Linked DNA regions of Homo sapiens: regions 2 and 3 are each linked to region 1. The links come from fine-mapping of genetic effects on gene expression. A gene starts in region 1. Each other region holds a variant in brackets. All regions are shown on one strand. Distances are from middle to middle.

Region 1 (2,808 bases):
TTTCAGTAATCCTGTAAGAAATTATGAAAGCCTGAACTAATACAGCAGCAGTGGGGAGAGAGAGGCACAAGACCAGAGAGATATTTAGGGCTTGGTGACAAACTGAATGCAGGGACCGAGGGAGAGGGAGAAGTTGTGACTCTCATGTTTCTGGCTAGGGTAAGTATGTGGAGAGTGTCAACACACAGAGGAAAGAGTCCCTATAAGGAGAAAATATTAATAGGAGTTTTAGGAGTTGCATTCGATTGTGAGATATCCTAATGGAGACAGAAATCCAGTAGGCAGTTACATGTCCAAGTCTGGAGTTTAGGGGAGCCATCCTGATTGGAGATAATAATCTGGTAGTCATCTTTCCATAAATAGACGTTAAAAGCCAAAGTGTGAGTGAGAGAGTGGAGTGAAAGGACGGAAAGACTTTGGACAATCTTACCATATGTACCCGGAAAAGAGCCAAGAAAAAGACTGAAAGACAGAAAAGAGCAGTGTGTCTGACAGAGCTATTTTAACAAAATTCAGCGTTTACAACAGAGTTTAAGAGTAAACTGGCAGGCCAGGTGCGGTGGCTCATGCCCGTAATCCCAGCACTTTGGGAGGCTGAGGTGGGTGAATCACTTGAGGTTAGGAGTTCAAGACCAGACTGGCATACATGGTGAGACCAACCCCCTGCCCCCACTCCCAATCTCTACTAAAAATACAAAATTGAGCCAGCGTGGTGGCGTGTGCCTGTGATCCCAACTACTCAGGAGGCTGAGGCACGAGAATCACTTGAACCTAGGAGGCGGAGGTTGCAGTGACCCGAGATCGCGCCACTGCACTCCAGCCTGGGCGACAGTGCGAGACTCCGTCTCAAACAAACAAAGAAAGAGTAAACCGACAAATACTACATTCTCTCTCTCTACACTCTGGCCCACTCTTAACACAAAAAACTGTCCAGGATCAGGAGACTTTTTGTTCTCCTCATCTCCTCCTTCCAAAGTTCTCTGCCCACGTTCTACTGTCTCCCCAAAATCCTACCTACCCTTCAGGAACTGCTGGAATGGGAGCTTGGGAAGTTTCAGCAAACTCCTCTCTCCTCCTTTGTGGCCCCTTTATTCCCAAAGCTGTGTCCTCTCCCTATGACGAGTCCCTTGAGGGGCTGTATCTTACTCCTTGTGTCTCCAAGCACACATAATGTGTATTAGGGGAGGAAGCATTCGCCAGTGGAGCACAAAGCTGTTGCAGGTCTCTTACTGGTTCTCAGGCGCTTTCAGTGAAATTCCCGTTCCCTCACCGTCCACATCTGTAATTTGCAAGTCTTATCTACGATAACTGCTGTAAAGTTACACGGGGAAGCCCTTTCCCGACAAAAAAAACGAGTTCTGCAACAAGTCCGTCGGATTTTAGCAATGAAACCGGCGCCGTGCAGCCTCGCCGGCGAGTGCACCCTGGAACGCACAACTTAGCGGCACGCACCACAGCTCGAGCACCGCCCTTCCGGTTGGAGCCATTGCAAGCCCCCCCCACGCCCCGCCCCCCTCGCTAGGCGCTCGCCACGCCCATGCCTCCGTCGCTGCGCGGCCCACCCCGGATGTCAGCCCCCCGCGCCGACCAGAATCCGTGAACATGGCGAACGAGGTAGGGCCCGTTGAGCGGAGGGCCCTGAGTCCAAGGGAGGGAGTGCATGGCATGGGACTAGGCTGCTATCCTCGGGGGCGCGCGAGGCTCGGCGCCCAAGACGGGATCTGGCTCTTGGTTCTGAAACTGGGCCCCCAGCGAGCGGCTCAGAGGGGCAGAAAGAGAAGGAAGCTTTGTCTCGGCTCTTCAGTTGGGAAGCAGCTTTCTTTGCTGCTTCTGGGACAGTCGGAACGGGGTGGGGGGGTGGGAGAGCCGGAGAGTGGGGGGCAGGGGCTGGTCAGGTCGGTATCCCAGTGGAAATGGCTTAGGAGCGGCCACGCATTGCTTCTTACACGAAATTAAGTAACTCGCTCTGGGTCATTCTTGCAGCTTGCATACTTGGCAGAGCTGCAGCCAGATCCCGTGCTTCTAACTCCTAGGTTGCTTGTGTTGCATAATTGAGCCTACGCCTTAATTATTGTGCCTCCAAGGAGTGTATTTTGGAAAGACCCCTACGTCCCTTTCAGAAACATTTTCGAGCACTTAAATACCAAGAGATTTATATTCCCTCTAGTCCTCACGTAACAAACACCTCTGCGAGGTGTTATCCCCATCTTACCAAAAACTGAGGTTTGAGGTTGGTTGTGCTTGGTCACACCAACGATGGCGAGCTGGGATTCCGACCCAGGTCTGCTCCTCTATGACAAATTCATAAAATACAAATTAGACAGTAAAGAAAGGCAGAAATTACGAATAACATACTCAGTCTAAAGTTGCTGATTATTTTAATGTTTTGCAATTTTGGACATTTTCTAGTAAGACAAATGGCCTTAAACATATTGGAGTTTGAAAGAAATAAACTCTAAACAGTCTTTCAGACTTAAACTGGTAGTTGCTTTTCCTTATTACTGAGTGTCTTTATTCAGAGAAGGTGAAAGATTATAATTGTTACTATAGTTCAAATGTTGAAGTAGGGCCATTTCCCGCGGATTTAGAGTGGGGCTTTGTTTTGCTTAGAATTGTCAGTAAAAGGAAAAGGTTAGGCTCCATTAAGACATTTTTTAAAGGGGAGCAGGCCATCAAATTTAGTATTCTTGTTTCTTTGGATTCCTATGTTGCATAACTTAATTGTTAGTATTCTGAATCTGACTTGTGGAGTTGAAATTTATGGCACATTGAAATGAAAAAGGTTCTAATGCAGTGTCTGATTCTTTG
Region 2 (2,500 bases), 330 kb before region 1:
TATGGGGTGACTGGAAGGAGATGTGGGTATCAGAAGAGTTTTTTTAACCTTTGTTTCTTTTTAATTTAATTTAATTTTTATTTTACTTTAAGTTCTGGGATACATGTGCAGAACGTGCAGGTTCGTTACGTTGGAATACAAGTGCCATGGTGGTTTGCTGCACCCATCAACCCATCATCTAGGTTTTAAGCCCCGCATGCATTAGGTATTTGTCTTAATGCTCTCCCTCCCCTTGCCTGCCACCCACCGACAGGCCCTGGTATGTGTCATTCCCCTCCCTGTGTCCATGTGTTCTCATTGTTCAACTCCCACTTACGAGTGAGAACGTGCGGTGTTTGGTTTTTTGTTCCTGTGTTAGTTTGCTGAGAATGATGGTTTCCAGCTTCATCCATGTCCCTGCAAAGGACATGAACTCATTCTTTTTTATGGCTGCATAACTTTTGTTTCTTATGCTGGGACAAATACAGCTTATTTGTACACTGCTGGGAATGATCTAACACAGGGAAAGTCATAGTGCAGGAAAGAGAAGGAATAAATATAACATAATAAAAGATAAGGATTATTTAGTAATGTCTAAAGAGAAAATGTGTGCTTATTTGCAGGTTTGAAAAGCAGAGATGATGTCCCAAAACTAGTGACTGAGTTCCTGGCAAAGAAATTTGACCTGGACCAGTTGATAACTCATGTTTTACCATTTAAAAAAATCAGTGAAGGATTTGAGCTGCTCAATTCAGGACAAAGGTAACTGTTTCTTATGATGATCTTGTCTCTTCTCCACAGGCTACTTTTAAAATTTAGTACTTATAAATGTGCCTGTTTTCTTCATATTTTATTTCTAATTATTTAATCTAGCCAGATTGATACAGCTAATTACTTCTCTTTACCCACTGCATTAGTGTATTTTCATACTACTATAAAAAAAAAAAACTGCCCGAGACTGGGTCATTTATAAAGCAAACAGATTCAATTGACTCACAGTTCAGCATGGCTGGGGGCTTCAGGAAACTTATAATCATGGTGGAAGGCAAAGAGGAAGCAAGGCACCTTCTTCACAGGCTGCAGGAAGGAGAAGTGTCGAGCAAAGCGGGAAGAGCCCCTTACAAAACCATCAGATCTTGTGAAAACTCACTCACTATCATGAGAACAGCATGAGGGAAACTGCCCCATGATTCAATTACCTCCACCTGGTCTCTCCCTTGACATGTAGGGATTATAGGGATTATAATTCAAGATGAGATTTGGGTGGGGACACAAAGTCTAACCATATCACCAACTTAGTATGCCATTGTACTATATTAATCAATTTTTTAAAATCTTTTGGATTTTGTTTACCTAGTTGATTTCATTGTGGCTATTTTTATTTCATCATAAAGCTGCTATTTATTTCAAGTA[A/G]GCCACAAAATTTCCTTATTTTACAGTTTTCAAAGTGCTTTCTCAAATGTGCATTATTCAGATCCCTGTAAGCCAGGTATTATTTTTACCATTTTTAGATGAAGACCAAGGTTGTGAAAGCAAATAAATAACTGGTCAAACCTCCTGGGGTAGTGCCAGGATATAAACTAATTGCAAAACTTGTGCTCTTTTGACCATATAACAAACTTCTCTGACAGAGCTTGGCAAGCTTTGGGTAAACATGGGTGTGATGATTACTACTCTTGTTGCTTCTGAGGGTTGGGCAAGGATAGAGGTCAAGTATGAATTCATGCAAATTTTATCTACAACATCTACCTCATGGAGGTCTCAAACAGCAATCAAAAAGCCTGTCTACAAGATGAAATGACTTTCACTCATTGGGCCTATAAATAATTATTGAGCTTCCACTATGTGCCAAGGACGTGGATTTCATTAGTAAAAGGAACTGTATATTGAGATCCAAATTTTTACTAATTTTTTTTTTTACCTGAGAGATTTTTCAATGTTGTGTCTTGTCTCCACATTTGGTCTAGCCTACAGGATCATCATATTATGAACATACATTTTTTTAAGCAAGTAAACAATGGGATTTTGTAAGAAAAACTGTCAGAACCACTCAGTACTACTTTACTCAGATAAGCAAAACTAACAGCTTAGTATGGCCTGCTTGGAAAATAATTACTATTTGTTTTCCAAAGAAACATAAATTCTGCTTTCAGGAATTTTGCTTCAAATATCACCTTAAAGCAGGGACATCCAAACTAACATTTGTAAACCTAAACTCTTCAATTTCCACCTACTTCCTGCACAGCTCTATTTGAATGTCCCACTTGGAAATATTTTTTCGCCAGTAATTTTTATCTCAGTCATTATATTATGCGTTCCTCTTTTATAGATGAGAAGCCATAGCATCATGTCTGACTTCTTTTTCACTCTTGCCTACCACATACAAACCAATTCTAAGCCTTGATGATGCAACCCTTGATTTCTCCTTCAGAATCCCTCATCTCATTGCCCACGCTCATTGCTTTAATTCAGTCTAATCATTTCTGACATGGACATGGTAGTGAGATAATAGGTTTTCCAC
Region 3 (2,672 bases), 23 kb after region 1:
TAATTGCATAGAACTATACCAAGGTAATTGTGTCTTTAAGGAACAACTACCAAGTGAACAAGATGAGCAAAGTCCTCTATTATACAAGATTTCCTTCGGTGGAACATTATGGTGACAAAGCAGCGTAATGGGCTCTTAAGCAGATTGATTTTTATCAAACTGGACATATCAGAATTCCTTATGTATAAGAGAAATATGCACATGCTCCTTTCAAGAAAAGAGTGATAACCCACCATGGAATTACCTCCAGTTTAAACATGTACTCTTGACTGCCAAAAATATCGAGATATGTTAAGCAAGATAAAGCAGCAGAACACGCTTTAAAATATGTTGATCTCTTTCTGTAATCTACATGTTAATATTAAATGTTCTTATCCTTGGCATTGTTTCCTCAGAATCATCCAGGGCTCAAATTCAGATTTAAGTTTAAAAAATTCTATCTGGAATTGTCTGGTGATCTCTGACCCAACTACTGAAACAAAGCAAATCTGCTTCATAGCCAGTCACATTCTGTATAGAATAAAACAGTTGGTAGTTGTCATATCACTGCACAAATAGGAGATTGCCACAGAGAAGTGTGGTGATTTGTTCTCCTAGCCACAGAATCAATTTAAAAATTGTAGAAATTGGCTGGGTGTGGTGGCTTACACCTGTAATCCAAGCACTGTGGGAGGCTGAAGTGGGAGGATCACTTGAGGCCAGGAGTTCAAGACCAGCCTGGGCAACATAGACCCTGTCTCTATAGAAAAATAATAATAATCAGGTGTGTTGGAACATGCTTGTAGTCCTAGTTACGTGGCAAGCTGAGGTGGGAGAACTGCTTGAGCCCAGGAGGTCAAGGCTGCAGTTAGCCATGATCATGCCACTGCCTCCAGCCTGAGGAACAACAACAACAACAACAACAAAAAACTATTAAAATACTGTGAACGACTAACAGCACAATTGTGATAAGTGAAAATTTTTATAGGAAGTCCTTCTTGAGTGCTCCATATTTTAACTTTTTGGAGTATTCTAGTAAAATACCAGTGTTGACCTTTTTTCAAAAATAACCAGAATCACCATATACACAGTTCTATTGTTGCTCACCCACAGTCCCCAAAATGAAAAGCAGCAAACACGTAGCCAGGGCCACCTTATTCCTGCTTCATCTTGCAAAACACCCAAATAAATGCAGACTATTTTTCTTTTTCCTACTTAGCACCAAAAGGAAGATGAGAGAAGGTTGCCATAAGGGCCAGAGTTTCCATACACAGACTGTGTGCTAAGCTAACCTTTCCTTAGGTGTCCATTTTTAAAA[T/C]AGAACAAAACACAACTTTTATAGGTTTTAGCCTAATGCAGCCTATGTTATGAAACAGTTTGTTCCTAAAACATGAATGTCTAAATGTTATGTTCTAACATAAAGGAGTTGGCCCCATCAAAAAGTGGGCGAAGGATATGAACAGACACTTCTCAAGACATTTATGCAGCCAACAGACACATGAAAAAATGCTCATCATCACTGGCCATCAGAGAAATGCAAATCAATACCACAATGAGATACCATCTCACACCAGTTAGAATAGCAATCACTAAAAAGTCAGGAAACAACAGATGCTGGAGAGGATGTCAAGAAATAGGAACACTTTTACACTGTTGGTGGGACTGTAAACTAGTTCAACCATTGTGGAAAACGGTGTGGCAATTCCTCAAGGATCTAGAACTAGAAATACCATTGGACCCAGCCATCCCATTAATGGGTATATACCCAAAGGATTATAAATCATGCTGCTATAAAGACACATGCACACATATGTTTATTGTGGCACTATTCACAATAGCAAAGACTTGGAACCAACCCAAATGTCCATCAGTGATAGACTGGATTAAGAAAATGTGGCACATATACACCATGGAATACTATGCAGCCATAAAAAAGGATGAGTTCATGTCCTTTGTAGGGACATGGATGAAGCTGGAAACCATCATTCTCAGGAAACTATCGCAAGGGCAAAAAACCAAACACCACATGTTCTCACTTACAGGTGGGAATTGAACAATGAGAACACTTGGACACAGGAAGGGGAACATCATACACTGGGGCCTGTCGTGGGGTGGGAGGAGGGGGGAGGGATAGCATTAGGAGATATACCTAATGTAAATGACGAGTTAATGGGTGCAGCACACCAACGTGGCACATGTATACGTAACAAACCTGCACGTTGTGCACATGTACCCTAGAACTTAAAGTATAATAAAAAAAGAAAAAAATAAAAATAAATAAATAAATAAAGGAGTTGGAAAATGAGCGACACTGCCACAAGTGTGGTGTAATTTACAAGTGGTATGATTTGCTCCTCTTGCAGCTGGAAAGCTTGGTAAAAGTTAAACACTATCAAATGTAGACAGAATCTTACTACACTGTCTCAAACAGTTCCAGCATTTCTAACTGCCAGACCACTAATATATCCCTCCCCACCTCTACTGTATTTTTTGCCCCCGAGATTCACTGCATTCATTCTTAAAGTAGCCCATGGTTTATGAAATTCAGAATAAGATCTAAATTACTTCAATGATATGTTCTAAGAAAAAAAGAATCATAAAGAAAGTGTACTTTATTGTTGGCAGTGATTTTAGTGTAGTAATTTTGAAACAATTTTACATCTGTCTGGTAGTATCAAGCAAATATTAATCTC

The links. PIP is the estimated chance that this variant, and not a neighbour inherited with it, causes the effect. A credible set is the group of variants that fine-mapping cannot tell apart.
Region 2: its variant is the best candidate, but not a certain one, in a credible set for the expression of ADH5 in aorta (GTEx, PIP 0.57).
Region 3: its variant is the best candidate, but not a certain one, in a credible set for the expression of ADH5 in whole blood (INTERVAL, PIP 0.53).

The regions. Positions count from the first base shown.
Region 1 is chr4:99,087,495-99,090,302 of GRCh38, reverse strand. It overlaps ADH5 (alcohol dehydrogenase 5 (class III), chi polypeptide), which reads left to right and starts at 1,515. Exons shown (of 9, transcript NM_000671.4): 1 at 1,515-1,614. The coding sequence starts at 1,603. LOC100507053 (a long non-coding RNA gene) reads right to left here and starts at 1,446. Exons shown (of 10, transcript NR_037884.1): 1 at 1,019-1,446. RefSeq lists a silencer at 1,483-1,532 and a promoter at 317-1,570.
Region 2 is chr4:99,413,719-99,416,218 of GRCh38, reverse strand. ADH7 (alcohol dehydrogenase 7 (class IV), mu or sigma polypeptide) reads left to right here. Exons shown (of 9, transcript NM_000673.7): 8 at 603-741. Among named protein-coding and RNA genes, the nearest start is that of ADH7, 20 kb to the left of the region's middle. The variant A/G (reference allele first, on the strand shown) is at 1,393.
Region 3 is chr4:99,064,967-99,067,638 of GRCh38, reverse strand. No RefSeq gene overlaps it. Among named protein-coding and RNA genes, the nearest start is that of ADH5, 22 kb to the left of the region's middle. The variant T/C (reference allele first, on the strand shown) is at 1,298.